Regions from separate parts of the Homo sapiens genome. Here all the other regions are linked to region 3. The links come from fine-mapping of genetic effects on gene expression. A gene starts in region 3. Each other region holds a variant in brackets. All regions are shown on one strand. Distances are from middle to middle.

Region 1 (5,475 bases), 180 kb after region 3:
AAGCAGGAGGATCACCTGATCCCAGGAGTTTGTGGCTTCAGTGAGCTATGATTGTGCCACTGCACTCCAACCTGGGGAACAGGGCCAGATTCTATCTCAAAAAAAAAGGGAAGGAAACAAAAAAATTGAGTTACAAATCAGTGCTGATTCTAACCCTGATTTTTTTCAACCCAGACTTGAGTGAAAGCCTTTCCAGAAATGTGTCTGTGTAGTTTCAATTCTTCAGGTTTGGGACAACCGATGTCAAACGTCCTTACCATTTCCTTCTAATGGCCTGTTCTTGCCTTAACCATGTGCCTGCTGCTCTGAGAATTCCTGTCAGCACTGGATCTGTCATTCTAAAAGAAATAGAATGTCATATGGCATTATCCTGCCCAAATATACACTTACTTGTCACAATGTATGGTCATTATCAGAAGCCCCTAGTCTCGTGGGAATGCCATGGGCTTTGGAATCAGTTCAGGGTTGGGACCAAATCCTGTGTCTATCAGTGTGAGATCCTGGACAAGATTCTGAGTCAAAGAATCATAAACGATCAATCAATAACTAGCCTGGGATGGGCATGATGGTTCACGCCTATAATCCCAGGACCTCGGGAGGCCAAGGCAGGTGGATCACCTGAGGTCAGGAGTTCAAGACCACCCTGGCCAACATGGCAAAACCTGTCTTTACTAATAATACAAAAATTTGGCCGGAGTTGGTGGCTCATGCCTGTAATCCCAGAACTTCGGGAGGCCGAGGCAGGCAGATCACCTGAGGTCAGGAGTTCGAGATCAGTCTGGCCAACATGGTGAAACCCTGTCTCTACTAAAAATACAAAAATTAGCCGGGCATAGTGGTATGCACTTGTAATCCCAGCTACTCAGGGGGCTGAGGCAGGAGAATCACCTCCAGGAGAACCCAGAGGCAGAGGTTGCAGTGAGCCGAGATCGTGCCATTGCACTCCAGCCTGAGCAACAAGAGTGAAACTCTGTGTTGTAAAAGATAGAAGAAAAATTAGCTGGATGTGGTGGTGCTCACCTGTAACCTCAGCTACTCGGGAGGCTGAGGCAGGAGAATTGCTTGAACCAGAAAGCGGAGGTTTCAGTGAGCCGAGACCATGCCAATGCATTCCAGCCTGGGTGACAGAGCGAGACTCTACCTCAAAAAAACCCAAAAAACAAAAAAACAAAGAAAAACAATTAGCCTGAATTGAATATTCTACCTTCTATTCCTTAACTGTTGTTATCTGTTATCACTAGTATAATCTGACTAGCCCAGATTTTATTCTGAGCTTTGAGGGAAATAGTTTTGAAGACTTATAGTTCAAGGAAAATCTTTCCCTGGGCTCAGACTTGTGTTTTTGTGAAATGGGGCTAACGTCTACCCCGCAAGGCCATCATGAACATAAGCTGAGATGACAGACCTAAGGGAAAGGCCTTGCACAGAGAAGGACTCCATCAGTGCCAGTTCTGTTCTTCACAACCCCTTGGTTTTTTGTTTTTAATTGAGGAACAACATCTATGCTGAAAAATGCACAAAGATTAAGCATAGAGCTTGGAGAATTTTCACAAACAGCATAGGTGTCTATGTAACCAGCCCCCAGATCTGGAAATACAGCATAGCCGGGCATGGTGGTGGGCACCTGTAGTCCCTGCTATTCTGGAGGCTTAAGCAAGAGGATAGATAGCTTGAGTCCAGGAGCTCAGGGATGAAGAGAGCTACGATTGAGCCACTGCACTCCAGCCTGGTGACACAGTACGATCCCATTTCTAAATAAATAAATACAGCAGGCCTCTAAACATCCCCCATTGTCCCCTTCTCTCCTGGATCTTACTAGTTTGCGGGTATGAGACTGTCATCCACAGGGGAGAAGCCGCCCGAAGGAGCTTCTCTGAGACCTTGCGTGTGTGAGTGAAAAATGGTGAAGTTCTCAGATAGTAACAAAGTTCATCCTTGTAATGGGTGTCTCCTTAGGATATCCAGGTGAACGCAGAGTTTGATGGCCTTGCTAGCTCAGTGAAGGGAATTCTTCCAGAACTCTGCATAAAGACTGGCGCTTGCAGAGTGGAGTATAAAAAGGAGTTGCTGCCAGTCTTCAGATCAGCCCTGCCAGCGTCTGTCCCTAAGTGACCTTGGAGTGTGGCTTCCTCATCTCCAATCAGCTGCTTCGACCTCCAGGTTGAGGAGCTCTTTGATTCACGAGGCCTTGTTACCACTTGTGTCTGCACTGAGTCCTCACGTCAGCCGTGTGCTAAGTCCACACGGTGCTCACACACCTGTACCCTCCTCTGTGCCCCACGGACCCTGCACTCATCTGGGCCTTCATGTGCTCTCACTCATTCCTGTCACACAAACCCCTACTAAGTACTGCACATTCAACTGGGCATGGTATCCAAGATGCCCAAGCAAGTCCCTGCCCTCCCCATGTTCATGTTCTGATGACCTCAGGAAACTATTAAAATATAAGGAGGGGTGCACACTCTACTTTTGAGAATGCAAACGGGCACAGCCTTTTTGGAAAGCAATATATCATCATGCACTGAGAGCCTCAAAACTGCCTGTGCCCTTTGATACAATCATTTGACTAATGTGCTCTAGAGAAATAACCAGAGATGCATAAAAGATTGATGCCTAAAGATGCTCATGGGGCCGGACGCAGTGGCTCACACCTGTAATCCCAGCCCTTTTGGAGGCCTAGGTGGCTGGATCCCTTGAGGTCAGGAGTTTGAGACCAGCCTGACGAACATGGTGAAACCCCAGCTGTACTAAAAATACAAAATTAGCCAGGCATGATGGCGCACACCTGTAATCCCCGCTACTCAAGAGGCTGAGGCAGGAGAATTACTTGAATCCTGGAGGTGGAGGCTGCAGTTCTCACCATTGCACTCTAGCCTGGGCAACAAGAGCAAAACTCTGTCTCAAAAAAAAAAAAAAAAAGATGCCCATGGAAATGCTGTTTATCATAATGAAAATTGGAAGTGTCCCCAATAACAGGGGATTGGCCAACTAAAATTTGGATATGTTAAATGTTAAAAGCAAATGTTAAAAGCCACATGCTCAAAGAACACTTAACCATTCATGAAAATACACATGATTAATGTTCAGTGAGAAAATTGGGAAGAAAAAAATCACATGGCAGCTGGGTGCAGTGGCACGTGCCTGTAGCCCCAGCCATTCAGAGGCTGAGGTAGGAGGATTGCTTGAGCTCAGGAGTTGGAGACCAGCTGGGGCAATACAATAAGACCCTGTCTTTAAAAATCAATCAATCAATC[A/T]CATGGCTTGTCTGACAGTTCCTCAAAAGCTTAATCATAGAATTACCATATAACCCATTAATTCCATTCCTAGGTATATACTTGAAAGAAATGAAGACATATGTCCCCACAAGAACTCGTGCACGAATATCCATAGCAACATTATTTATAATATTCTAAGAGTGAAAATGCCCACCAGTGGATAAATGCAACGTGGTATATCCATACAGTGGAATATTATTTGGCAATAAAAAGGAATTTGAGGTGATACCAATGTTCTAAAATGTATTGTGGTGATGGCTACGTAACTGTGCATATTCTAAAGGCAATTGAATTACAGATGCTTTACATGAATGAACTGCATGGTATGTGAATGGCATCTCAATAAAACTGTTTTGAAAAGAAGGAAAAGGACGGACACATGCTGAAAACGGGTGAAACTAGAAAACATGGCGCTAAGTGAAAGAAGCCAGCCACAAGATCACGTGTCGCATGACTGCATTTACGTGAAACATCCGGAGTACCCAAATCTATACAGACAGAAAGTAGATTATACATTGCCTAGGTGCAGAGAAATGGAAGGATTGGAGGTTGACGGCTAAAGGATGTGGATTTCTTTGGGGGGTGATAAAAATGTTCTAAAATTGATTGTGGTGATGTGCGACTCTATGAATACGCTAAAAACCGCTCGGTTGTACATTTTAAATGGGCGATTTATGCGGTATGTGAATTACATCTCAAGAAAGCTGCTGCAAAAAATATCATACGGGTTGAGCCTAGTGGTATTAAAAAAGTATAAATATGGCCAGGCGCGGTGGCTCACGCCCATAATCCCAGCACTTTGGGAGGCCGAGGCGGGCGGATCACGAGGTCAGGAGATCGAGACCATCCTGGCTAACACGATGAAACCCCGTCTCTACCAAAAATACAAAAAAAAATTAGCCAGGTGTGGTGGCGGGTGCCTGTAGTCCCAGCTAGGTGGGAGGCTGAGGCAGGAGAATGGCGTGAACCTGGGAGGCGGATCTTGCAGTGAGCCAAGATTGCGCCACTGCACTCCAGCCTGGGCGACACAGCGAGACTCCATCTCAAAAAATAAATAAATAAATAAAATAATTGTTTGGGTACACTGTTGCTGTTACGAAGCCTACGATTTGACTGTCTTGCCTTCATTGATGATCTTTTTCTCCCCATGGTTGCTTTTAAAATCTTGTGTTTGGTATCTTGTCATTTACTACTACCTTGAGTCTAGGCCTGGATTTTATTTAAATATATGTTTGGTATATATTGTGTTTCCTGAATTTACGAATTCATGTTTTACCAACAAATTTGGAACATTGTGTTATCTCTTCAAGTATTGCCTCCTTCATTCTCTAGATTCTCTCCCTCTAGTACTTCCAGTCTTTAAAATTCTTCCCTCCAAATCTCAACTTTCTAATGTTTTCTAGCTCCTTGTTTCTCCTACTGTTGTTTGTATAAAATTATAACGAAAAGTGTTTATAAGAAATTGTAAACAAATGTAAAACTAAATAAACATTGTTATGCAACATTTAAAAAATTGTTTGAACTGAAGGATAATAGTGACAAAGCCTATTAAAACCTCTGGGATACAGCAAAATTAAGAGGAAGGTTCATAGCATTAAATGCCTACATCAAAGAGCATGAATAGACAATCTAAAGTCATACCTCACAGAACTGGAGAAACAAGAACCAACCAAACCCAAACCCAGAAGAAAAAAGAAATAATAAAGATCAGAATTAAATAAAATTGAAACAAAAATACAAAAGATATATGAAACAAAAAACTGATTCTTTTAAGAGATAAACAAAATCAATAGACCATTAGTGAGATTAACTAAGAAAAAAAGGGAGAAGATCCAAATAAGCTCAATTAGAAATGAAATGGGAAATATTACAACCAATACCACAGAAATATGAAATATATTCAAGGCTACTATGAACACCCTTATGTGCACAGACTAGAAAATTTAGAGAGAGTGATAAATTCCTGGAAATATACAACCCTCCTAGATTAAAACACAAATAAATAGAAACTGCACTGGGTATAGTGGCTCACACCTGTAATCCCAGCACTTTAGGAGACTGAGGTGGGCAGATCACTTGAGGCCAGGAGTTTGAGACCAGCCTGGCCAACAGAGTTAAAACCCTGTCTCTACTGAAAATAAAAAAAATTAGCTGGGTGTGGTGGTGCACACCTGTAATCCCATCTACTCAGGAGGCTGAG
Region 2 (5,000 bases), 33 kb after region 3:
GCAGGAGAATCGCTTGAACCCGGGAGGCAGAGGTTGCAGTGAGCCGAGATCACGCCACCGCACTCCAATCTGGCAACAGAGCAAGACTCTGTCTCAAAAAAAAACCCCAAAAAAATCCACAACAAACTCTAGGCATTGAAGGAACATACTTCAAAGTAATAATAGCCATCTATGACAAACCCATAGCCATCATTATACTGTATGGTCAAAAGCTCGAAGCATTCCCCTTGAAAACCAGAACAAGACAAAGATGCCCTCTCTCACCTCTCCTATCCAGCATAGTTCTGGAAGTCCTGGCCAGAGCAATCAGGCAAGAGAAAGAAATAAAAGGCATCCAGATAGGAAGAGAGGAAGTCAAACGATCTCTTTTCATAGATTATATGATTTTATACCTAGAAAACCCTATAGTCTCTGCCCAAAGCCCCTTGATCTGATAAACAACTTCAGCAAAGTTTCAGGATACAAAATCAATGTACAAAAATCAGAAGCATTCCTATACACCAACAACATCCAAGCTGAGAGCCAAATCAAGAACACAGTCCCATTCACAATATTCACAAAAATAATAAAATACCAGTCGGGCATAGTGGCTCACGACTGTAATCCCAGCACTTTGGGAGGCCGAGGCAGGTGGATCACTTGAGGTCAGGAGTTCGACACCAGCCTGGCCAACATGGTGAAACCCATCTCTGCTAAAAACACAAAAATTAGCTGGGCATGGTAGTGCACGCCTGTAATCCCAGCTACTTGGGAGGCTGAGGCAGGAGAATCGCTTGAACCTGGGAGGCGGAGGTTGCAGTGAGCCGCGATTGTGCCACTGCCCTCCAGCCTGGGCGACAGAGTGAGACTCCATCTCAAAAAAAAGAAAAGATAAAATACCTTGGAATACAGCTAACCAGGGAGGTGAAAAATCTCTATAGCAAGAATTACAAAATACTGCTGAAAGAAATCAGAGCTTACACAAACAAATGGAAAAACATCCCATGCTCATAGATAGGAAGAATCAATATTGTTAACATGGCCATACTACCCAGAGCAATTTATGGATTCAGTGCTATTCCTATCAAACTACCAATGACATTCTTCACAGAATTAGAAAAAAACTATTTTAAAATTTTTATGGAACCAAAAAAGAGCCTGAATAACTAAGGTAGTCTGAAAAAGAGTAAAGCTGGAGACATCACATTACCCAACTTCAAACTTCACCTCTACTACAGGGCTACAGTAACCAAAACAGCATGGTACTGGTAAAAAAAATAGCACATAGACAAATAGAATAGAGAGCCCAGAAATAATGCTGCACACCTGGAACCATCTGATCTTCAACAGAGTCAACAAAACAAGTAATGGGGAAAGGACTCCCTGCTCAATAAATGGCGCTAGGATAACTGGCTAGCTATATTCGGAAGATTGGAACTAGACCCCTTACTTACACCTTATACAAAAATCAACTGAAGATGGATTAAAGATCTAGATGTAAAACCTTAAACTATAAACACCCTGGAAGATACTAGGAAATACCACTCTGGACATAGACCCTGGCAAAGATTTAATGGCAAAAATTTAATGACAAAGATGCCAAAAGCAATTGCAGCAAAAACAAAAATTGACAAATGGGACCTAATTAAACTAAAGAGCTTCTGCACAGTAAAATAAACTGTCAAGAGAGTAAACAGCCACCCTACTGAATGAAAGAAAATATTTGCAAACTATGCAAAGGTCTAAAGTCCAGAATCTATGAGGAACTTAAATTTACAAACAAAAAAAAAACCCCGTTAAAAGGTGAGCCAAGGACGAATAGATACTTCTCAAAAGAAGACATACAAGTGGCCAAAAATATATGAAAAATATGCTCATCATCTGATGCTAATAATCAGAGAAATGCAAATCAAAATTGCAATGAGATACCATCTCACACCAGTCAGAATGGCTATTATTAAAAAGTCAAGAAATAACAGATGCTGGTGAGGTTGTAGAGAAAAGGGAACACTTACACACTGCTGGTGTGAATGTAAATTAGTTCAGCCATTGTGGAATGCAGTTTGGCAATTTCTGAAAGAATTTAAAACAGGATTACCATTTGACCCAGCAATCCCATTATTGGGTATATACTCAAAGGAATGTAAATCATTCTACTGTAAAGATGCATGCGTAAGTATGTTTATTACAGCAGTATTCACAATAACAAAGATAAGGAATCAACCTAAATGCCCATCAGTGGAAGACTGGATAAAGAAAATGTCGTATGTGTACCGTGGAGTACTGTGTAGCCATAAAAAAAGAAAAAGATTATGTCCTTTTATTTTTTATTTTATTTTATCTTTTTTTGAGACGATCTCGCTCTGTCACCCAGCTTGGAGTGCAGTGGTGCGATCTCTGCTCACTGCAACCCTCGCCTCCCAGGTTCGAGCGATTCTCCTGTCTCAGCCTCCCAAGTAGCTGGGATTATAGGCATGTGCCACTACACCCGGCTAATTTTTATATTTATAGTGGAGATGGAGTTTTGCCGTGTTGGCTAGGCTGGTCTCGAACTCCTGGCCTCAAGTTATTTGCCTGCCTCAGCCTCCCAAAGTGCTGGGATTACAAGTGTGAGGCCACCAT[A/G]CCTGGCCAAGATCACGTCTTTTGTAGCAACATGGATGGAGCTGGAGACCGTTATGGGAGAATTAGCACAGCAACAGGAAACCAAACGCTGCATGTTCTCACTTGTAAGTGGGAGCTAAACTTCGAGTACATATGAACACAGAAGGGAACAGCAGACACTGGGGCCTACTTAAGAGTGGAGAATAGGAGGAAGGTGAGGATGGGAAAACTACTTTCTGGGTACTATGCTTATTACGGGGATGATGAAATAATCTGTACACCAAACCCCCGTAACATGCAGTTTACCTGTATAACAAAACTGCGTATGTACCCCTGAACCTGAAATAAAAATTAAAAAACATTCTGTTTGTGCCAGTATTCCTCTTAACCTTTGGGTTTTCATCATTTCTGGTAACATGCCTAAAACTGACAGATCCCAAATTATGCATGTACCTGCAATTTGTTAGGATTTTGTTTGTTTTTTGTTTTTTTGAGACAGTCTCACTCTGTCTGCACTCCAAGCTGTAGTGCAGTGGCCTGACCTCGGTTCACTGCAACCTCCACCTCCTGGGTTCAAGCAATTCTCGTGCCTCAGCCTCCCAAGTACCTGGGATTACAGGCATGCATCACCATGCCTGGCTAATTTTTGTATTTTCGGTAGAGATAGTATTTTGCCATGTTGGCTGGGCTGGTCTTGAACTCCTGGCCTCAAGTGATCTGCCTGCTTTGGCCTCCTAAAGTGCTAGGACTATAGGCATGAGCCACTGCACCCAGTCTGTCCTGCAATTTGATGGACTACAAATTAAATAGAGCATCATTACTAAAAGGTCAAATTTTAGGCCGGGCATGGGCACATTCAAGTTTGAGAACAGCCTAGAGCTGCACTTTAAAATTTTAAGTGCTGGAGTAGAAATGTAAGTCTTCTGTCATGTACTATGAATATAGCTATTAAATAGTGGATACTCTTTTTTCCTTGATTCAACATTCAATATTCAAAATTGATTTTTTTTTTTTTTTTTGAGATGGCGTCTCATTCTGTCACCCAGGCTGGAGTACAGTGGTGCGATCTCGGCTCACTGGAACCTCCACTTCCTGGCTTCGAGCTATTCTCCTGTCTCAGCCTCCCAAGTGGCTGGGATTACAGGTGTGCGCCACCACACCCAGCTAATTTTTGTATTTTTAGTAGAGACGGGGTTTCACCATGTTGGCCAGGCTGGTCTTGAACTCGACCTCAGGTGATCCGTCTGCCTTGGCCCCCCAAAAGTGCTGGGATTACAGACTTGAGCCACTTCGCCCAGCCGAGTGTTTTGTGTGTGTGTGTGTGTGTGTGTGTGTGTGTGTGTGTGTGTGTGTGTGATTTATCACATTTACTTAGGGAATAAAAAATTGAATCTGTCATGTTGAGAGGCTTTGTTATCTCACACTAGCTATTGGCTCAGGAAACATTTAAGTTTATTGAACCAAAACATTTACTTAAAGGAAAGGTAAGGGTGTTTCTCAGCAAACTCATTGGGCCCATAGCTGTTCTTTTGAGACTCGTCTCAAGGAGGGCAGCTGCTGTAAACTGGTCCCTTGGCAGGTCATGGTGAGAGGGAACATATTGAATTGGATGGCCAGAGGTGTGACCCAGTATCTGGTTCCTGGTTATCTGATTTATGTTTTTACATCTTCCAGGTGCCCTCCCGGTTGCAGAGAGCTTCAGCTTCTGCTTGGTAACTCTGCTGTCTGATGTGGCCTATAGGGATCCTTCACTTAGGGATGAGGTAAGCATGTGTTGGTTGATTTGGTATGCATTTCTATTAGATTGAATAGAGTCCCAAAGTGATGAAAAGATTTTAAAAACGTGAAATGTGATTGAATTGTTTGTTGATATTTATCTATTTCATCCTGTTGACAGCAGACCTAAGACATGCTTAGGTCTTTCACTACTCTTTAGGATCTCGAGTCTTATCTTATTAAACTTTTCTTTTTTTTTTTTTCTTTTTTCTAATGAAGGGCAGGGGCTGCAGAGACATGAGCAGCACTATCCCTTTCAGCTTTTCAGAAAGTCCTTTAAGGTAGGCGGCAGAAAAAGGCAGAGGCAGCTCATTTTTCTTGCTCTTTGTTGGGGATTGAAGTCATTCATAGAAGATCATTTTCTTTTCTTTTTTTGAGGCAGTCTTGCTCTGTCATCCAGGCTGGAGTGCAGTGGTGCAATCTTGGCTCACTGCAACCTCTGCCGTCCACCTCAAGCCAGCCTCCCTCCTAAGACTCCCAAGTAGCTGAGACTATAGGCGTGCACCATCATGCCAGCTAATTTGTTTTGTATTTTTTGTAGAGACAAGGTTTCGCCATGTTGCCCAGGCTGGTCTTGAACTCCGGGCCTCAAGTGATCCTTCTGCCTCGACCTCCCAGAGTGCTGGGATTATAGGTGTGAGCCA
Region 3 (5,418 bases):
AATCCCAGCTACTTGGGAGGTTGAGGCAGGAGAATCATTTGAACTGGGGAGGTGGAGGTTGCAGTGAGCCGAGATCACACCATCGCACTCCAGCCTGGGTGACAGAGTAAGACTTTGTCTCAAACAAAACAAAAATAAAAAACCAACAGTTAAACACAGGGAGGTGGGCTAGGTGCAGTGGCTCACGCCTATAATCCCAGGACTTTGGGAGGCCGAGGTGGTGGATCACGAGGTCAAGAGATCGAGACCATCCTGGCCAACATGGCAAAACCCCAACTCTATTAATACCAAAATTAGCTGGGTGTGGTAGTGCACGCCTTAGTCCCAGCTACTCAGGAGGCTGAGGCAGGAGAATCACTTGAACCCAGGAGGCGGAGGCTGTAGTGAGCCAAGTTGGTGCCACTGCACTCCAGTCTGGTGACAGAGCGAGAATCTGTCTCAAAAAAAAAAAAAAAAAACCACAGGGAGGTGGATCAATGAGGGATACATGAACAGAGAGAGGTGGGGAAGGGAATTAACCCAAGAAAACAGCAAGGGGAAATGATAGCGTGTTGCTCTGTCGCCCAAGCTGGAGTGCAGTGGTATGAACATGGCTCACTGCAACCTTGACATCCTGGGCTCAAGCGGTCCTCCTGCCTCAGCCTCCTCAGTAGCTGCACTCACATGTGTGTGCCACCATGCCTGGCTAATTTTTCAAATTTTGTAGAGACGCAGTTACCCCTGCTGGTCTCAAACTCCTGGGCTAAAATGATCTGCCTACCTCAGCCTTACAAATTGTTGGGATTACAGAAGTACAACCGCGCCTGGCTTATACATTTTTTTAAACCTTTTTTTTTCTCTGTCCAAACAAAACTGTTTCATTAGCAGGCTGAAGAGAGACTGTGGTGTACAATAAAGAATCATTCTCGACCGGTATGGTGGCTCACGCCTGTAATCCCAGCCCTTTGGGAGGCCAAAGCGGGCGGACTGCCTGAGGTCAGGAGTTCCAGACCAGCCTGGCCAACGGGGCAAAACCCTGTCTCCACTACAAATACAAAAAAAATTAGCCGGGTGTGGCGGCGCACCTGTAGTCCCAGCTACTCGGGAGGCTGAGGCAGGAGAATCGTCTGAATCCCGGAGGCGGAAGTTGCAGTGAGCCCAGATCATGCCACTGTACCCAAGCAAGGGCGACAGAGCGAGATTCCATCTCAAAAAAAAAAAAAAAAGAAAAAGAAAAAGACCCTCCAGGATCTCGGTCTGTTGCCCATGCTGGAGTGCAGCAGCACGATCTCAGCTAACTGCAACCTCTGCCTCCCGGGTACAAGCGATTCTCCTACCTCAGCCTCCTGAGTAGCTGCGACTACAGGCGCACCGCCACACCCGGCTAGTTTTTTTTTTTTTTTAATTTTAGTGGAGACAGGGTTTCACCATGTTGCCCAGGCGGGTCTCGAACTCCTGAGCTCAGGCGATCCGACGCCTAGGCCTCCCAAAGTGCTGGGATTACAGGCGTGAGTCACTGCGCTCGGCCAGAATAATTGTTATTGAAGGTACTACTCTCTGAAATCTAAGGATGGGAAGAACTGATGAAGATGAGTTGGAGCAACAAACTCTTAACCCGCACACTATTTGTCTAGGATTTGGGAAGTAAAGGTAAGACCCTGGACTCAATCAAACCCAGGCTTTGGTCAACTAGGCAGCTGTCTGGGCTGAAGGGACTTCAATACCTCTATTGGTTGGTTAGGTGGAGATGTCAATGATGCGGGAAGAACTCGTGGACCACCTGCCCTGATGCTTCAGGGTATCACCTGACACTCGCAGGCACATAGTCCTCTCTTTCTGGCTCACTCCGGAAGGAATGGCCAAAACCCTGTGCCAGATTTTGCACAGGAAATAATGTCGAAGAAACGGACTCTCCATTTCCCAAACCTAGGACCTGCTGTTCAGAATTTTTACTCACCTGGACAGAAAATAATCTGGCGTTTCCCCGTGAGCTAGGCGTAAGAAAAAAAAAATCAACGAAGCAGACTAATAGCTAAGGAAGATTTCTGGGGTAAACTGCCCTCTTCAAGTACTCCAGATGCACATACCTTTACATAGTTAACAGATTGTTACCACCATCGAGTCACTAAGGTGCAAGAATCTATGCTAGGCAACTTGAGAATTCTCAAAAGATTGTGAGCAAAACATTTCTCGTCTCCGTTTGACAGCACAGAGACCGGCGAGTCCACACCAGCCCTGCCCCAGGCTCACCTCGGAAGAGGCGACCCCAACCTTCTCGGACTCGTACATGAGGGCCAGGGACCTGCTGGTGCTGGCGGCCGTGGCCTCAGCCCTGCGGAGGACCTCCTGCCGCAAGTACTGCTGCCTGTCCGCGGGCGCGTCGGGCCCGTCGGGGAGGTCTCGGGCGTCCCTCCAAGGGGCCGGCCGGGCGCCTTCGTCCTCCCCGTCGTCGTCGAACGGATTGTAGCTTTTAGGGTAAGCTGACATGGTGCCGGCGCGGCTCTCGGTCTGGGAAACAGAAGGAGGAGCCCCACTGCCGCCGCCGTCCAGGGCCTCGCCCCGCCCGCCGACCCCGCGGTCGTCGCGCGAACTCCTTCCGCGCGTCGCGCGCAGGTGGCCCCGCCCTCGGAGCCGACCATCGCGCAGGTCGGCTGGGGGGGGCCCACATCCGGCGCGCGCAACCGCAGCCTACTGTCCATCCCCTCTCTCCCCTGCAGCGGTGGGCCCGCCCCGCAGCCACGCCCTATCTAGTGTCAGCAACTGAGAGGTCACGTGGCGGGAAAGCCGGATGCACCTACGCCTGCGCCCTGAGGTCGGGCGCTCGCGGGCCAGGAGCGGGGAGCCGGCGGGCAGCGCCGCGGCTCGTGAGGTGATGGCGGCGGCCCCGGCCCGGGGAGGCGGAGGCGGAGGCGGAGGCGGCGGCGGCTGCTCCGGCTCCGGCTCCAGCGCCTCGCGGGGCTTCTATTTCAACACGGTCCTGTCACTGGCCCGCTCCCTGGCGGTGCAGAGACCAGCATCCTTGGAGAAGGTAACGTCGGCGGGCTGGGCCGCGGGCTGACAGGAGGAGGGGCTGGGGTGACGAAGCGTGGAGGCGGGACGAGGGTCTGTGGGAGGCCGAGGCTGGGCTCGCCGGCAGCCTGTGCGGGAGGGGGCGCCTGAGCGGAGGGATCTAGCGGGGGAAGGAGGCCCTAGTGGGAGGGGCTGGTGAAGAGAGAGGGACCGTGGGGGAAGGGTCGGCGGGGCCTGCAGGGCCGCTGCAGGTGGGTGGTTGTGGGATGGGGGTGGGGGATGTGAGCTGCTGGCCCAGGGAGCATCTTGTGACATCGCGGAGGTGGAGGCTGGATCGTGGGCGGCTGTGCGGAGCAGTGGGATGAGCCGAGGACCAGGGGTCAAGACCTGGGGTTCTGCTTCCGATTTCACCTGCTTTTTATTCCGCGACCTTGGGAAGATGGCTTTCTTGTAAAATGGGGATGCTTTTATCTGCTTTGCCGGCTTCACCGGACTGTGGTGACCAGGAGACGAAACACTGTCTTGAAAGTGCTTTGTGACTGTAAACCAACTGCGCAGTGTTATTCTACGAGGCTGGGGGCGTTAGGTTGGGTAAAAGATTGTGCGTTTGCAGAAGGGACAGTGGCAGGGAAAGGAGAGTGAACTGTCAGTGGGCAGAGAAGTGAACTTGGAATTGCTTCAGAAGAGAAAGGTGAAGTCATGCCAGAGCAATCCTCATCTTGGGAGAAAGGTGAAAGGCAACTCAGTGGTGTGCCTTGAGATCTGGAAAGAGACAGATTTTAGAGTGGGACCTGAATTTGTTCCCTGCACTGGCACTTACTTACCATGTCCTCTTGGGTAAATTTAACTCTTAGAGCCTCTGTATCCTTATCTGTAAAATGAGGTTGTTCTTGAGAATTAAATGAGTTCTAGCATAAAGCATCTTGCACAGGTCAAGGCACAGAGTGGGTGAGCAGTAAATGTCAACTTTCTTTGCCCACCCGTGTGCGATGAGACTCAGCACAGTGTTTAGCTCTGAAAGGATGGAATTATTTTCCCACTCAACTTTTTGGCACATGGAGAGAGGATGTTTTCCGACAAGATAAGACAGTGGTGACCGGAGACCAGCCTGCTGCAGTTGGGAGTGGTTTTGTGGCTGTCTGCTGATGGATGAAGCTGAAAGGCTGTTTTAGGCACTTTTGGCAGAGTGACCTGGTCCTTGGCCTTGTCGGTTCTCATATTTGATTTTATCATGCACCTTCGGGGTGAGAAGGTCCCGGCAGATTGGTGCTAACCTGACTTCTAGCTAAAGAGGGAGTACAATGCAATGGAAAGGACATGAGTTTGGAAAATGGAACCTCTGAATTTAAATCCTGTATCACTTGCTTTCACTAGTGTGACTCTAGACAGGTCAGTTCCCTTCTCTGATACTTTGCTATCTTCTGTCAAATACAAGGTAGTACTTCATAGGAGTATTGTGAAGAGCAACAAAAAGGCACGTGGGTACCTAATGTATGAGCACTGTTATCATTAGATAGTCTGACTAATGGAGTGTAGTGCTGTTTTATTGAATCAAACTCATGCTAGCTAGTCAGCACATTCGCTTCTTAGCAGGAGAGCCAACAAATATATCTTATGACTGATTGCTGGATTCTGGGAGGAGAGAGAAGAGAATGCAGTGAATTGGATGATCTTTAAGAAGCTGGTCCTGCAGCTCCAGCAGTGGTAGCACCCTTTCCACTCAGTAACTCAGAAAAGGGCACCTTGAGCTCAATTTGCTTCTTCAGCCATGTTCACTAGTCACGAGAACATTCTGTAATTGCAACATTCTTAGCTTTGTAGTAATAACTGCTTCAGTTGTCAAGATTATATTTTATGATGGGGCACGGTGGCTCATGCCTGTAATCCCAGCACTTTGGGAGGCTGAGACAGGCAGATCACTTGAGGTCGGAGTTTGAGACCAGCCTGGCCAACATGGTGAAACCCTGTCTCTGCTAAAAACCCAACATTAGCCAGGTGTGGTGGCACGTGCCTCTAATCCCAGCTACTTGGGAGGCTGAGGCAGGAGAATCGCTTGAACCTGAGAGGCAGAGGTTGCAGTGAGCCAAGATTGCGCCATTGCACTTCAGCCTGGGTGACAAGAGCAAAACTGTCTCAAAAAAAAAAAAAAAAGAAAAAGATTATATTTTACAAGGAACACAGCCATAGCCACAGGTTGGCAGCTCCCTAATGCCACTTACTTTAGGAAGTACTTCAGTCTCATTGGCAACATTTACCAATCACTTTTTTGGTTTTTTTGAGAGGGAGTCTCGCTCTGTTGCCCAGGCTGGAGTGCAGTGGTGAGATCTCGGCTCACTGCAACCTCTGCCTCTCAGTTTCAAGCTATTTTTCCACTGTAGCCTCCTGAGTAGCTGGGACTACAGGCGTGTGCCACCACCCCGGGCAAATTTT
Region 4 (5,000 bases), 100 kb after region 3:
GAAAAAGGCTGGGTGCGGTAGCTCACGCCTGTAATCCCAGCACTCTGGGAGGCTGAAGTGGGTGGATCACTTGATGTCAGGAGTTCGAGACCAGCCTGGCCAACATGATGAAACCCCATCTCTACTAAAAATACAAAAATTAGCCAGGTGCGGTGGCGTGTGCCTGTAGTCCTGGCTACTTGGGAGGCCAAGGCAGGAGAATCACTTGAACCTGGGAGGCAGAGGTTGCAGTGAGCTGAGATCACACCACACACTCCAGCCTGGGAGACAGAGTGAAACTCCATCTCAAAAAAAAAAAGGAAGGAGAACCTAGCAGATTTTGCCAGCCTTCTAGAGAATATTCATAAACCGAATCAGATCCCTTTCTGAAGTGAGATGTCTCATTCGCCCTTCTCTCTGAGCTCTGTTTTTCTGTTCCTGTGACATCAGAGGACGTTAAATTGTTCCGGGGGACTGATTGTTCCTCCTCACCTTAATTCAAAATAAAGCGATTTTCATTTTTGCAGTACATTGTACTCTTCCACATGGTTTCAAACTGATTATTTTTGTTCTGAGCGTGGCACTTAGCCAGTAAATGTACAGCTATTGAGTGTATATCCCTCTTATATTTTTCCTCTAAAACATGAAAGATAAGAAGGAAATGTCTTTGGAGACATATATTATTCTTGAATTTTCAGAACCTACCAGGAGGAGAGGGTATATGAAATATCTAGCAGCCCCACTAAAGTGGGGACTTCTGCCTCCTCTCTGCAGGTATAAGATGAGCCTCTGTTATGTTCTCAGCTGCACAGGAACGTGAGGGCAGGAGCCTGCTGCTCACCTGCCCACCATCCTGTGAGTCAGTTCACCAGTAATCCAGAGCTAAACTAAGGGGTTAAGAGGAGAGTGGCCTTTTTAAAGTAAAAATCTTACTTACCTTAGGGCCGGGTGTGGTAGCTCACACCTGTAATCTCAGCACTTTGGGAGCCGAGGTGGGCAGATCACTTGAGGTCAGGAGTTTGAGACCAGCCTGGCCAACATGATGAAACCCATCTCTACTAAAAATACAAAAATTAGCTGGGTGTGATGGCAGGTGACTGTAATCCCAGCTACTTGGGAAGCTGAGGCAGGAGAATCACTTGAACCTGGGAGGCAGAGGTTGGAGTGAGCCAAGATCACACCACTGCGCTCCAGCCTGGGCAACAGAGCAAGACTACGTCTCAAAAAAAAAATTTTTTTTAATCTCCTTAGATGCTACTACATGACATTGATTGGCATCTGATGTCTATCTGATTATCAGGAATTTACAGTTTCAGTTTCCAAAGAACTATATGAAAAAACTATTATACTAGGCCAGGTGTGGTGGCTCACGCCTGTAATCCCAGCACTTTGGGAGGCCAAGGCGGGTGGATCATTTGAGATCAGGAGTTTGAGACCAGCCTGACCAACACGGAGAAACCCCATCTCTACTGAAAATACAAAATTAGCCCTGCATGGTGGCGCATGCCTGTAATCCCACCTACTCGGGAGGCTGAGACAGGAGAATTGCTTGAATCTGGGAATGCAACCCGTCGGAGGTTGCAGTGAGCTGAGATCGCACCACTGCGCTCCAGCCTGGGCGATGAGCGAAACTCTGTCTCAAAAAATTAAAAAAAAAAAAAAAAGCTATTATACTAAACACATGGCCCAAAATAAGATTTCACCCACCCAACCCAGCCTCTTAAGAAAGCAGCCTCTCACTACCCTTGAGCATCTGTCCAGGTCACACTGATAACTTTTCAAATTGCTGCGGTCCCACTTACCCTTATAACAGATAGCTATGAAAGGCCTCTTTATGTCTCAGGCTTCATGCTGGGTGTGAGGTGCCAAGCTGATAGCACCTGCCTTGTCTCTCTGCCTGGAGGCAGAGGGCAGACCCAGCATGTAGTCATGCAAATTAAAAACACTGGATAGAGAAACAGCATTATGGAGTGTGAATTGGCATTTTATTACAGTTTCTTCATCTGCACTGTGATGATCACTGTGTTCTGTTGCTTTTTTTCTTTTTCTTTTCTTTTTTTTTTTTTTATGTGACAGTGTGTCGCTCTGTCACCCAGCCTAGAGTGCAGTGGCACAATCTCAGCTCCCTGCAACCTCTACCTCCCAGGCTCAAGTGATTCTCATGCCCCAGCCTCCCAAGTAGCTGGAATTAACAGGTGTGCACCACCGTGCCCAGCTAATTTTTGTATTTTTAGTAGAGACGGGGTTTCACCATGTTGGCCAGGCTGGTCTCAAACTCCTGACCTCAAGTGATCCACCCGCCTCAGCCTCCCAAAATGCTGGGATTACAGGCATGAGCCACTGTGCCCAGCCCATTCTGTTGCCTTTTACAGCCTACTTGGCACCTCTGTAACAATGAGCATATCCGGTGCTCAGATCTTGGTTTCTAAATAGTATTCTCCAATAAAAGGAACCAGGGCTCCATGGAGAAATGGTTGATTCT[A/G]GGGAGGCCTGTACAGGATGAGCCTGGGGCACCTTGTTACACCAGAAAGTAAGGACACGCCAAGAAAGAAGAAGAAAAGACAAGACATGGGGCCTGTCCGAATGACACAGGAGCCAACCTGAAAGAGCTCCGAGTGGCCAAAGCTGGAATGATTTGAATAGAATAAATGGTATTGGATTATAACCCAACGAATAAACATCCACGGTTCTGTAATGATTAGACTACCGAATAAATAAAAAATGGGGAAAAAGGCTGAACCTTCCTTACAGAATTCCAGTTACTATTAATAAAAATAGAAGAGGCTGGGCACGGTGGCTCATGCCTGTAATCCTAGCATTTTGGGAGGCCAAGGCAGGAGGATTGCTTGAGCCCAGGAGTTCAAGACCAGCCTAGGCAACAAAGCGATACCCTGTCCCTAAAAAATAAATTTTTGTTTTGTTTGAGATGGAGTCTCGCTCTGTCACCCAGGCTGGAGTGCAGTGGCATGATCTCAGCTCACTGCAACCTCTGTCTCCTGGGGTCAAGCGATTCTCCTGCCTCAGCCTCCCAAGTAGCTGGGATTACAGTGGCACGCTACCATGCCTGGCTAATTTTTGTATTTTTAGTAAAGATGGGGTTTCACCATGTTGGCCAGGCTGGTCTCGAACTCCTGACCTCGTGATCCACCCACCTCGGCCTCTCAAAGTGCTGGGATTATGGGCGTGAGCCACCATGCCTGGCCAACATTTTTTAAAAAGTAGAAAGAATTGAGGGAAATAGAAAATTCCTATGACAACCACAGTAACTACTGCAGGCAGAATTCACTCGTGGATGCCAAAGTGAAGGGGCAAAATCTTAAAAGACATGATCTCTGCATAACTTCAAAGTATCTTCCCCAAAATATCAATCGCTGTGGTGGCTGTAATTCTCATTCACAAATTTCCTTCAGGAGGTAGCATTTAATTCCTTGGCTCTGAGTGTGGGCTGTCCTTAGTGACTTGCTTCTAAAGAATAGAGAAAGGGACTGGGCATAGTGGCTCACGCCTGTAATCCTAGCACTTTAGGAGGCCGAGGCAGAAGGATTGCTTGACCCAGGAGTTCAAGACCAGCCTGGGCTACATAGTGAGACTCCCAGTCTCTACAAAAAATAATCAATTAGCTGAGCATGGTGTTGTACATCTGTAATCCCAGCCACCAGGGAGGCTGAGGTGGGAGGATCCCTTGAGCCTGGGAGATCAAGGTTGCAGCTGAGCTATGATCTCACCATTGCACTCCAGACTGGGCAACAAAGTGAGACCCTGTCTCAAAAAAAATAGAAAAAGGGAAAAACGGTAACTCAAACCAAGGGATCAAGGTTAGCTTCACCAGTAATAAGAGATACTGTTATCACATACCACTTACGTGATGCAGAAAGAGCACATCCAGGCCGGACACGGTGGCTCACGCCTGTAATCCCAGCACTTTGGGAGGCCGAGGCGGGCGGATCACGATGTCAGGAGATCAAGACCATCCTGGCCAACGTGGTGAAACCCTGTCTCTACTAAAAATACAAAAAATTAGCCGGGCGTGGTGGTGGGCACCTGTAGTCTCAGCTGCTCAGGAGGCTGAGGCAGGAGAATGGCGTGAACCCAGGAGGCGGAGGTTGCAGTGAGCCAAGATCGCGCCACCACACTCCAGCCTGGGCAACAGAACGAGATTCAATCTCAAAAAAAAGAGAAAGAAAAAAGAAAGGGCACATCCACTCTATGGAGTTCTCCCTCAAATCCTGTAACCCTAGTCTTATCATGGACAAGCATCAGACAAACCTAAATTAGGGGACATTCAACAAAATAACTGTTCTTCAAAAGTGTCAAAGTCACAAAAGACATTGACAGACTGAGGAGTCACCACATATTGGACAGGAGTAGGAGACACAGATTAAATGCCACCTGGTGTCCTGGGTTGGATGCTGGAACAGAAGCGGGGCATGTGTGGGAGACCTGGGAAATCCAGACGAAGTCTGAAGTTTAGGTAATAGGATTATATCAATATCTGACTCAGTTTTGACACATCAGCCTGGTTACTGCAGATGTTAAAATCCAGGGAAGCTAGGTGAAGGGTATATGGGAGCTCTGTGCTGTCTTTGCCACTCTCTGTAAGTCTAAAATCATTTCAAAAGAAAATGATTGAAAGTTGCTAGGATTCTCTCTCTGTTGCTGCACCTTATCCATGGAAACCTTCTCGTTTCAGGGATGATGCAGTGTGTGATTGCAGTCGCGGACAAAGTATTCGATGCCTTCCTGAACATGATGGCGGATAAAGTAAGCCTCTCCAGCATGAATGCGTGTCTGTCTGCTGGAGGCATCTGGGGCACTGCGGTACCTGTTTCTTTTGCATCTCTAGGCCAAGACCAAGGAGAACGAGGAGGAGCTGGAGCGGCACGCTCAGTTCCTGTTGGTGAACTTCAACCACATCCACAAGAGGATAAGGAGGGTGGCAGACAAGTATCTATCTGGTCTGGTGGATAAGTAAGCTCATTTTCCTGCTAATGTTTTGTGTGTATGTATATAAACTTCTGTGA
Region 5 (5,000 bases), 140 kb after region 3:
CGAGATGACATATGCATTAGTCTGCCAGGGCTGCATAGCGAAGCACCACAGACTGGGCAGCTTAAACGACAGAAATGTCTATTCTCATTCTCAGAATTGTGGAGGCCAAAAAACAAAACAAACAAACAAACAAAAAACATGAATTCTGGAGGCCAGAAGTCCAAGGTCATTGTTCGAACAGGGTTGTTTCCTTCTGAGGCCTGTCTCCCTGGCTTTTTTTTTTTTTTTAAGAGACAGGGTCTCGCTCTGTCACTCAGGCTAGAGTGCAGTGGCGTGATCTCAGCTCACTGCAGCCTCAACCTCTCGGGCTCAAGCTATCCTCCCACCTCAGCACCTTCCCCGCTACCCCTCCCAAGTAACTGGGATGACAGGCGTGTGCGACCACGCCCAGCTAATTTTTGTATTTTTTGTAGAGATGGAGTTTCGCTATGTTGTCCCAGGCTGGTCTCAAACTCCTGAGCTCAGGCAATCTGCCCACCTCCGCCTCCAAAAGTGCTGGGATTATAGGCCTGAGCCACTGTGCCCATCTCCCTGGCTTATTGATAGCCATCTTCTCCCTGAGTCCTTACAGGGTCATCCTTTTGTGTGTGTCTGTGTCCTAATCTCCCCTTATAAGAACACCTGTCATACTAGATTAGGACCCACCCTATTGACCTCATTTTACCTTAATCATCTCTATAAAGACCCTATCTCCAAATACAGTACCATTCTGAGGTCCTGTAACATATGAATTTGAAGGGACACAGTTCAGCCCGTAACAGTATCCATGGACATAAAGTGCTCAGCACAGGTCATGGCACAGAAAATATCCATGGGAATGACCACAGCCAGGAGCCCGAGCCGCCTCTGCCCTCGCGCCAGCCTGCCCACTGCACCCTGTGTCTGAGTGCAGCTTGTCTGCCCTATTCCCCAACCCCAGGGCTGACCTCATTTCCCTGGATGAATTGGGCAGCAGACTCCATGTGTCCTGGCTGAGTCCTCACCACTCTGGCCCACCTGTGGGCTGGCTGAGTTACATGGCTGGGTGTCCCAGGGGCTAGCCTTGGAGTCTGTAGACCAAAGTGCTTCTAGAACAGCAGCCAGCCTCTGCTGAAAGACTGAGTCCTGTGGAATCATTCACTGCCCTCACTAGGTAGTGCCACACTCTCTGCGCCTCTGAGTGGTGATATGTGTGGAGCCACACTCACCAAGCCGGAGCCTTCACACTGGTGGCAACTTACAGGATTGTCATGAGGCACCTTCTCTTCAGCAACCTGTTTCCTTCCCCCTGGCTCCCCTCCCACATTATTTTCCCTTGACTGCTTGGCTCTCTGCTTGCATACAGGCCTAGCATAAGGGTGAGATCCAGAGGCAGTGGGGAGGGGAGCCAGTACCCAGGGCCTCCGTGTGAACTCTTGGTGGTGGCTACCAGAGAAAGGCCGCCTGAAATGATTCTTCTGTGTGTGGTTGTACCAACTCAGGACTCAGCTAGTTTCACTGGTTTCTTTCTTGCTTTCCATTTTTAGGGAATTTTTTTTTGTTCGTTTTGTTTTGTTTTAGACAGAGTCTCGCTCTGTTGCCCAGGCTGCAGTGCAGTGGCATTCTCGGCTCCTTGCAGCCTCTGCCTCCCAGATTCAAGCAGTTCTCCTGCCTCAGCCTCCCAAGTAGCTGGGATTGAAGGTGCATGCCACCACGCCCGGCTTATTTTTTGTATTTTTAGTGGAGACAGGGTTTCACCATGTTGGCCAGGCTGGTCTCAAAACTCCTGACCTCAGGTGATTCACCTGCCTTGGCATCCCATAGTGCTAGGATTACAGGCATGAGCCACTGCGCTCAGCCAGAATTTTTTTTTTTTTTTAGACAGAGTTTCGCTCTTGTTGCCCAGGCTGGAGTGCAATGGTGTGATCTCAGCTCACTACAACCTCTGCCTCCCAGGTTCAAGCACTTTTCCTGCCTCAGCCTCCCAAGCAGCTGTGATTACAGGCATGTGCCACCACACCTGGTTAATTATTTTAATTAATTAATGGCTAGGCGCAGTGGCTCACGCCTGTAATCCCAGCACTTTGGGAGGCTGAGGCGGGCGGATCACGAGGTCAGGAGATCGAGACCATACTGGCTAACAGAGTGAAACCCCGTCTCTACTAAAAATGCAAAAAATTAGCCAGGTGTGATGGCGGGAGCCCGTAGTCCCAGCTACTTGGGAGGCTGAGGCAGGAGAATGGCATGAACCCGGGAGGCAGAGCTTGCAGTGAGCCAAGATCATGCCACTGCTCTCCAGCCTGGGCTATACAGTGAGACTCCGTCTCAAAAAAATAATAAATATTTATTTATTTATTGAGATAGAGTCTTTGTTGCCCAGGCTGGAGTGCAGTGGCACGATCA[C/T]GGCTCACTGCAACCTCCACCTCCCAGGTTCAAGTGATTTTCCTGCCCCAGCCTCCCGAGTAGCTAGGATTACAAGCGTGTACCACCACGCCTGGCTAATTTTTATATTTTTAATAGAGACAGGGTTTCACCATGTTTGCCAGGCTGGTCTCGAACTCCTAACCTCAGGTGATCCACCTGCCTTGGCCTCCCAAAGTGCTGGGATTACGGGCGTGAGCCACCACACCCAGCCTATTTTTGTATTTAATAGACATGAGGTTTCCCCATGTTGGTCAGGCTGGTGTCAAACTCCTGACCTCAGGTGATCCACCTGCCTCGGCCTCCCAAAATGCTGGGATTACAGGCGTGTGCCACCACACCCAGCCTGGAATATTTTTTAAGTTTAAAAAAATTTATATCACTATGGCAATACAAATGTATATACATATTTGTTTATACTTTTACAAAAAAAGGGAACAGTAGGCCGGGCGCGGTGGCTCACGCTTGTAATCCCAGCACTTTGGGAAGCCGAGGCGGGTGGATCACGAGGTCAGGAGATCGAGACCATCCTGGCTAACACGGTGAAACCCCGTCTCTACTAAAAATACAAAAAAAGATTAGCCAGGCTTGGTGGGCACCTGTAGTCCCAGCTACTCGGGAGGCTGAGGCAGGAGAATGGCGTGAACCCGGGAGGCGGAGCTTGCAGTGAGCTGAGATTGCACTCCAGCCTGGGAGACAGAGCGAGACTCTGTCTCAAAAAAAAAAAGGAACAGTAAATCAAAAGTTAATAAAAATGGCCAAAGAGGGAGAGATCAGGATGGAACTGACAGATATGTACCATATTTAATAATTTTGACTTTGGAACTCTGTCAGTGTTTACATAATTAAAAAGCAAACTTATATTTAAAAACACTACACATTGAACATTCATAGTTTGTCTTTAGATCCATTTGCCGGGTTAGAATTGGGAAACCCAAAGTGAAGACTTCTGCCTGTGTGGTAAGACCACCCCCGACTCACCCAGGTCAAAAATGTCCATCCAAGGGACACTTCACCAGATCAGTGGCCACAGACTCCAGGAGGCTGCCCAGAAAGGCCAGCTCACCTTTTTAAACCTAGGGCATGGAATTAAAACTGGAGTTTCAAAACTTATGGCTCTAGGAACAAAAAAAATTTTTTTAATTAAAAAGAAAAACTGGAGTTACTACTATGAGTGGCGGAAAATGACCAAGAAGGAAGAGGAGGATAGGTCCTTAGGATGGTGACCACAGTTGTGTATATTAGTCCATTTTCACACTGCTATAAAGAACTTCCTGGCCAGGTGCGGTGGCTCATAACTGTAATTCCAGCACTTTGGGAGGTTGAGGTGGGTGGATCACCTGAGGTGAGGAGTTCAAGACCAGCCTGAACAACATGGCGAAACCCTGTCTCTACTAAAAATACAAAAATTAGCCAGATGTGGTGGTGTGCGCCTGTAATCCCAGCTACTCGGGAGGCTGAGGCAAGAGAATTGCTTGAACCTGGGAGGTGGAGGTTGCAGTGAGCTGAGATTGTACCACTGCACTACAGCCTGGGTGACAGACCGAGACTCTGTCTCAAAAACAAACAAACAAACAAAAAAACTTCCCGAGACTGGGTAATTTATAAAGGAGGCTTAATTGACTCACAGTTCCACGTGGCTGGGGAGGCCTCAGGAAACAGAATCATGGTGGAAGGGGAAGTAGGTCCGTCTTACCTGGCAGCAAGCGAAAGAGAGCAAGTGTGTGTGTAGGAGGAACTGTCAAACATTTATAAAACCATCAGATCTCCTGAGAACTCATTCGCTGTCATGAGATCAACAAGGGGGAACCGTCCCCATGATCCAGTCACCTCCCACCAGGTCTCTTCCTCAACACCTGAGGATTACAATTCAAGATGACATTTGGGTGGGGACACAAAACCTAATCATATCAGTGTGTCAGTTTGTGAAGGAGGTATCTCTGCATGTTTCTGGAACCTGTCTGTCACTTTGGAACATTGTTCTAAACAACCAGCTCACAAGTGAGTTTTTAGTACCCAGCCTGCTTTTTCTCGTACTTGACAACTCCAGAAATTGGTTTGAGAGTTGTGCTTCTTAAACCCATGGGAAGACACAGAGGAGACAAAGGCTGACTGTCGCCCGCTTTGCAACCCTGCCCCCCAGGTCCCAGCCCCCAGCCAGCTGGAACTTGGCCTGGCCACTGGCTGGACTCAACATCAATCCTGGAGAGCTTGTCCACACCACTAGAGCCACCGGGCCTTACCCTTGCCTGGTCTACCAAATGCCGGGAGTCAGCAGCTGCTGACAAGGCCCTCCTCATGGAGAGGGCCGAGCCTGGCTGACAGGGACCTTGCTCTCCTGCAGATGGGCTATGTGCGGGAGTATATTCTGTGGGCAGCGTCTAAATCCCAGCTTCTGGCACACCAGTTCATCTGGAACATGAAGACTAACATTTATCTAGATGAAGAGGGCCACCAGAAAGACCGTGAGTATTTTGTCCTCCCACAGGCCTCACTTACTGTCTTCAGTGCACTGCCAAGCACCTTCTACAGCCCCCAGGGCTCTCGCCAGCCTGCACTGCCCCAGCTCACCGACCCCTCCACTCCCACCCTTTGCTGGGGCACTTCTCACCTTTCAGCAC
Region 6 (5,430 bases), 450 kb after region 3:
AAGCAGCTACTGACACCAAAGCACATCATGTTAGTTTCGAGGTTTGCTCCCCAGGGAGAAATTCCTGCCAGCTCTGGGGGGAACCACGCACAAGAGCTTTGCCACATCCAGCGCGTCGATGGGATCCACGTCCCTCAGTCCAGCATCCCCTGCACCCAGCAGGCTGCCAGGCACGTAGTATGTGCTGAGCAGGTGTTTGTTGAACTGGATGGCCAAGGGCTTCCCCTCGCTGTGCAGCCTCTGGTGCTCAGTGAGGTGCGAGCTCCAGTTGAACATCTCCCCACATTTCTCACACTTAAACGACTTCTCCCCGGAGTGGATTTTCTGATGTTTAATGAGACAGTGGTTCTGGCTGAAGGCTCTGCCGCACTCGCTGCACTTGTAGGGCTTCTCACCGGTGTGGATGCGCTGGTGCACGATGAGGGACGAGTGGCAGCTGAAGGCCTTCCAACACTGGCTGCAGTCGAAGGGCTTCTCGCCTGTGTGGATGCGCCGGTGCACGATGAGGTAGGCGTGGGAGCTGAAGGCTTTGCCGCACTCGTTGCACTTGAAGGGCTTCTCGCCGCTGTGGATGCGCCGGTGCACGAGCAGGTACGCGTGGCAGCTGAAGCCCTTCCCGCAGTCGGCGCACTTGAAGGGCTTCTCGCCCGTGTGCGTCCTCTGGTGGAGGGTGAGGCGCGAGCGGCTGTTGAAGGCCTTCTCGCAGTCGCTGCACTTGAACGGCTTGTCCCCGCTGTGGATCTTCTCATGCACGGTGAGGGATGAGTGGCAGGTGAAGGCCTTGCCGCAGGAGCCGCACTGGTAGGGCTTCTCGCCCGTGTGGATGCGGTGGTGGCGTGTGAGGTGTGTACGCTGGTTGAAGGCCTTGCCGCACTCGCCGCACCGGTAGGGCTTCTCGCCGGTGTGCACCCGCAGGTGCATGCTGAGCAGCGAGCTGCAGCTGAAGGCCTTCTCGCAGGCGCTGCACTTGTAGGGCCGCTCGCCCGTGTGGATGCGCTGGTGCACGTTGAGGGACGAGTGGCAGCTGAAGGCCTTCCCGCACTCGCCGCAGAAGAAGGGCTTCTCGCCGGTGTGGATGCGCCGGTGCTCCAGAAGGTTGGTGCTCCAGGTGAAGGCCTTGCCGCATTCATCGCACTTGTAAGCCTTCTCCCGGCTGTGCCAGCGCCGGTGCAGCGTGAGGGAGGAGCTCTGGCGGAACGCCTTCCCGCACTCGCCGCACACGAACTCGCCCTCCCCGGCGCCCGCCCCGCGCTGCCGGCGCACCTGGGGGAACTTTTCTGGCTCACTTGGCGTGGAGGCGTTTTCCCCTGCACACAGTCTCGCGGGGGCCTTGGTTCTGCCCTCAGTGGCCTGGACGTTCTTGCGTGTGTCCAGCAAGGGTCCCCCCTCGGGAACGCGTTGCTGGGCGAAGAGGGGACACCTGAGGGGGAATTCCTCTACAGGGACGTCCCAGACCATGGCAGGTGCGGGCGCCCAGGGCGCAGCCTGACTCCTCTGCAGAGCACCTGCCTGGCGCCCCCACGCCTGCGCCCCGCCGAGGGGCCGCTCCATGATGGGCTCCTGGGCCGGTTCTTCTTTGCAAATGCCCTGCTGTTGAGAGGGCACCGCCTTCAGCTCCCATTCTGTAAGATATTGAAAATGATTTTCTGTGAGCAAGCGGAAACCTGGCCTAGAATTCAGATTTGAGAATTGGCCTGGAGATGCAGATAAGCCCAGAAAAGAGAGGAGAGGCCACCAGGGCCAAGGCTGGAAGGTGCAGGCAGAGAGAAGGGAGCGCCCAGGATGAGATGGGCAAGCAAGAGCGGGAAGAAGGGAGAGGAAGAACACGGAAGGAGCTACCAGAGAGCAAAGACCGGGAGAGGCGGAGAAGCCAAAGGAATCCCGGAAG[G/A]AACAGCTACAAGCACCAAGGGGGCTGAGAAAGGGGCAAGCTTGGGAGCTGTTGATGAGGATTACACTCATTCACGGACACGTCGGCTGACCGACTGCTCTGTATCAATACCATGGCAGGTGCTCGCAATACACAGGACAAATACATGTTTTTTGTTTGTTTGTTTGTTTTGAGACCGAGTCTCGCTCTGTCGCCCAGGCCGGAGTGCAGTGGCGCGATCTCGGCTCACTGCAAGCTCCGCCTCCCAGGTTCACGCCATTCTCCGGCCTCAGCCTCCCGAGTAGCTAGGACTAACAAATGAATTAAAAATTGTCTGTGGTGCCAAAAGGAAAAAAGGGCTCCCCACACCCCAGCGCTTCCCTTTAGAACACTGGGAATTGCAAATGCTTTCTCTGTCTCGAGACGCATGCAAACCTTTTCAGAAGCAAAATGAGCCTAGTCCAAGAGTCGAGTCCAAGATGTAACTTCCTGCTTGTCAAAAAGCTACAAGAGGCTGGGCGCGGTGGCTCATACCTGTAATCCCAGCACTTTGGGAGGTCAAGGTGGCGGATCACTTGAGCCCAGATCAAGACCAGCCTGGGTAACACAGTGAGACCCCTCTACAAAAAATACAAAATTAGCCAGGAATGATGGTACCTGTCTATAGTCCCAGCTACTCAGGAGGCTGAGGTGGGAGGATCACCTGAGCCTAGGGAGGTTGAGGCTTCGAGCTATGATCATGCAACCGCACCCCAGCCTGGGCAATAGAGGGATACCCTGTCTCAAAAAACAAACAAACAAACAAAACCCAAAAAGCTGTACTCTTCCTTTAGGTGAAGACAGTTGCCCTGTGTGCTGGGTTGGATGTGTCTCCTCTGTCAAAGGGGGAGGTTTCTTTCTCTCCTGTACACCACATCTGGTTAAACACTTATTCAATAAGAAGGCTTTCTTTCTTTTCTATCTCTATAGCAAGGTTTTCTGAGCTGGCAGGAGATTTTATTTCTAATTCTGTCCTCCCCAGGCTTAAAAGGGAGCAGTCTAGTGCAGCGGGCAGAGCTGCATGGTGGTGCTGCCTGTGGCCCCAACACATGCAGAAGAGCAGGGCAAGTGGAACTGGCCATGGCACACATGGCAGGTAGCCAGGTGGAGAGTGAACAGCATGTGCAGAAGCTCAGAGGTGAGACAGTAAGATGAAGACAAGACACGCAGAGGCAGGAAGGCTGAGAGGTGACCCTGGCAAGGTGGATGGGTTCGAGGTGACCAGATGCCTGACTCAGAGGGCAGCCGGGGAAGAAAGGCCTTTTGCACAGAGGGTGATGTGATCATATGGTGTCTTGACGGGGGGCGGGGGAAGCAGAGGGCGGGGACACAGTCTCGCTCTGTTGTCCAGGCTGCAGTGCAGGGGTGCAATCACAGCTCGCTGCAGCCTCCAACTCCTGGGCTCAAGTGGTCCTCCTGCCTTGGCCTCCCAAAGTGCTGGGATTAGATGTGTGAGTCCCTGTGCCTGGCATAATGGTTTGTCTTGAAGGTGGCTTTGGTGGTGTGTAAGGTGGTTGGAGCCAGCAGTTAGGGAGGCCAGTTAGGGAGGCCATCTGAATAATTCAGGTGAAAAATGGCAACTTCAGACTGGAACCAAGGCTGTGAAAATGAACAGGAAGCAGCAGATCTAAGAGCCATTTAGGTGCTAAAACTGATGGCCCTAGCTGTTGACTGAAGGTGGCAAGAGAGGAAATGGGGGAGAGGATGAGACCTCAGCAAACACCCAAGCCTGGGTGGATGGTGGAAGCTTTTATAAAGGAGGAGGAAGGGCCAGTTCCAAGTCTGGTTTTAGACATGCAAGCAGAGGCCCACGAGATGGTCAGTGACACAGGGCTGCAGCTCAGCTGGTGTTGCTATAGTGTAGACCACATCCACACCAAGTGAGAGGTAAGAGTCTAGGGAAGTTGCACAGAGCAGAGAGAAGAGGCCCAGGCCAGAAAAAAGTTGTTTTGGCAGCAATAGGGCCAACAACACAGCAGGGCACATTCATCTAAGGGATACTGTGCAATCAGTAAACATCACGTGAGGACGCTCACTATGCCATGGCCAGTGTGGTAGCCAGACTCCGGCGTGAGTGCTGTGCTTCCGAGGGTGCATAAGGCTTTATTTATTTATTTGTTTGAGATGGAGTTTAGCTCTGTCACACAGGCTGGAGTGCAATGGTGCGATCATGGCTCACTGCAACCTCTGCCTCCCGGGTTCAAGCAATTCTCCTGCCTAAGCCTCCAGAGTAGCTGGGATTACAGGTGCTCACCACCACGCCCAGCTAATTTTTTTTTTTTTTTTTTTTTGAGATGGAATTTCACTCTTGTTACCCAGACTGGAGTGCAATGGCACGATCTCAGCTCACCGCAACCTCTGCCTCCTGGGTTCAAGCGATTCTCCTGCCTCAGCCTCCCAAGTAGCTGGGATTACAGGCATGCACCACCATGCCCAGCTAATTTTGTAATTTTAGTAGAGACAGGGTTTCTCTATGTTGGTCAGGCTGGTCTCGAACTCCTGACCTCAGGTGATCTGCCTGCCTCGGCCTCCCAAAGTGTTGGGATTACAGGTGTGAGCCATCACGCCTGGCCACATGTAGCTTTAGAAGTCTATCCGCACACAGAGGAAGGGCCCAGAGGAATCAGTGACATGGTCAGTTATTAGAGAACCGTCATCTCTGGGTGGAAAGATTATGCAGGATTTCAGTAACCTTTCAGCCTCATTTTCAGTATATTCATATATGAATCAAACAAAAATATGAATTTTTTGAAACCTGTAATCTTGTTAAAGAGGACAAAGCAAGCATCAGAGGCTGGGGTGAGAAATAAAGACCAGAAAGCTGGGGCTGCAGCCACTGTTGCAGGTTGGGGCTGGGTGGTATGTGGCAGTGGAGGGGGATGGAGGAGGGGCTGCCTTCCCCGACCCCCGTGTTCTGTGCTCCACAGCTTATCGGCTGCCTTTCCCACAGAAAGGTGTTTCTCGAGCTTTCTAGACACCTAACATGCTCAGCAGTCACTGTCCAATAAATTAAGCCGAATTTACCACTTATTTATCAACCAACTCAGAAGAGAAGTCTACAAAAAGAATGTTGGAGAAGAAAAGCAGACTACCTTCTGCTCAACACCCACCCCAGTCCCCTTTCCCTTACGGAGGGCTGCCATCTTGGCCACAGCCTGGAAGCCCTCGCTGACGTTGACCCTGACCCTGACGCTGATGCTGACCCTAATGCTGATGCTGACTCTGACCCTGACGCTGATGATGGCCCTGACACTGATGCTCACACTGGCCCTGATGCTGATGCTCACGCTGGCCCTGACACTGATGCTGGCTCTGACCCTGACGCTGACGCTGGCCCTGATGCTGATGCTCATGCTGACCCTGACACTGACCAACGCCAGCTGCCCCTTCCCTGGTGGCCCCCTGCCCCCAATCCCACACCCCCGGCTGCCCAGCCAACACCAATGGCTCAATATTTCTATTCCTGCCTCCCCATCCCCATCAGCAGGTGACCATTTGGTCCCAGTGGCCAGGTTTGTTCCCTG

Which allele goes with the higher level. Alleles are on the strand shown, and positions count from the first base shown. SD is a standard deviation of normalised expression in the study named. Not every link is listed here.
As copies of A replace T in region 1, the expression in esophagus mucosa of the gene that starts at base 2,766 in region 3 goes down (moderate effect, 0.41 SD a copy in GTEx).

The links. PIP is the estimated chance that this variant, and not a neighbour inherited with it, causes the effect. A credible set is the group of variants that fine-mapping cannot tell apart.
Region 1: its variant is the best candidate, but not a certain one, in a credible set for the expression of PI4KA in esophagus mucosa (GTEx, PIP 0.72).
Region 2: its variant is the best candidate, but not a certain one, in a credible set for the expression of PI4KA in whole blood (INTERVAL, PIP 0.84).
Region 4: its variant is the best candidate, but not a certain one, in a credible set for the expression of PI4KA in whole blood (TOPMed, PIP 0.56).
Region 5: its variant is the best candidate, but not a certain one, in a credible set for the expression of PI4KA in whole blood (TOPMed, PIP 0.53).
Region 6: its variant is the best candidate, but not a certain one, in a credible set for the expression of PI4KA in skeletal muscle (FUSION, PIP 0.51).

The regions. Positions count from the first base shown.
Region 1 is chr22:20,677,216-20,682,690 of GRCh38, reverse strand. No RefSeq gene overlaps it. Among named protein-coding and RNA genes, the nearest start is that of SERPIND1, 94 kb to the left of the region's middle. The variant A/T (reference allele first, on the strand shown) is at 3,255.
Region 2 is chr22:20,823,669-20,828,668 of GRCh38, reverse strand. It overlaps PI4KA (phosphatidylinositol 4-kinase alpha), which reads left to right. Exons shown (of 55, transcript NM_058004.4): 4 at 4,255-4,343. Among named protein-coding and RNA genes, the nearest start is that of PI4KA, 33 kb to the left of the region's middle. The variant A/G (reference allele first, on the strand shown) is at 2,602.
Region 3 is chr22:20,856,159-20,861,576 of GRCh38, reverse strand. It overlaps PI4KA (phosphatidylinositol 4-kinase alpha), which reads left to right and starts at 2,766. Exons shown (of 55, transcript NM_058004.4): 1 at 2,766-3,007. The coding sequence starts at 2,852. It overlaps SNAP29 (synaptosome associated protein 29), which reads right to left and starts at 2,570. Exons shown (of 5, transcript NM_004782.4): 1 at 2,230-2,570. The coding sequence starts at 2,466. RefSeq lists an enhancer at 1,839-2,648 and silencers at 2,328-3,087, 3,108-3,157.
Region 4 is chr22:20,752,850-20,757,849 of GRCh38, reverse strand. It overlaps PI4KA (phosphatidylinositol 4-kinase alpha), which reads left to right. Exons shown (of 55, transcript NM_058004.4): 24 at 4,670-4,740; 25 at 4,823-4,947. Among named protein-coding and RNA genes, the nearest start is that of SERPIND1, 19 kb to the left of the region's middle. The variant A/G (reference allele first, on the strand shown) is at 2,462.
Region 5 is chr22:20,721,142-20,726,141 of GRCh38, reverse strand. It overlaps PI4KA (phosphatidylinositol 4-kinase alpha), which reads left to right. Exons shown (of 55, transcript NM_058004.4): 43 at 4,724-4,844. Among named protein-coding and RNA genes, the nearest start is that of SERPIND1, 50 kb to the left of the region's middle. The variant C/T (reference allele first, on the strand shown) is at 2,362.
Region 6 is chr22:20,401,569-20,406,998 of GRCh38, reverse strand. ZNF74 (zinc finger protein 74) reads right to left here. Exons shown (of 5, transcript NM_003426.4): 5 at 1-1,622. The coding sequence ends at 31. Among named protein-coding and RNA genes, the nearest start is that of ZNF74, 10 kb to the right of the region's middle. RefSeq lists cis regulatory regions at 1,617, 1,884 and enhancers at 1,533-1,702, 1,800-1,969. The variant G/A (reference allele first, on the strand shown) is at 1,889.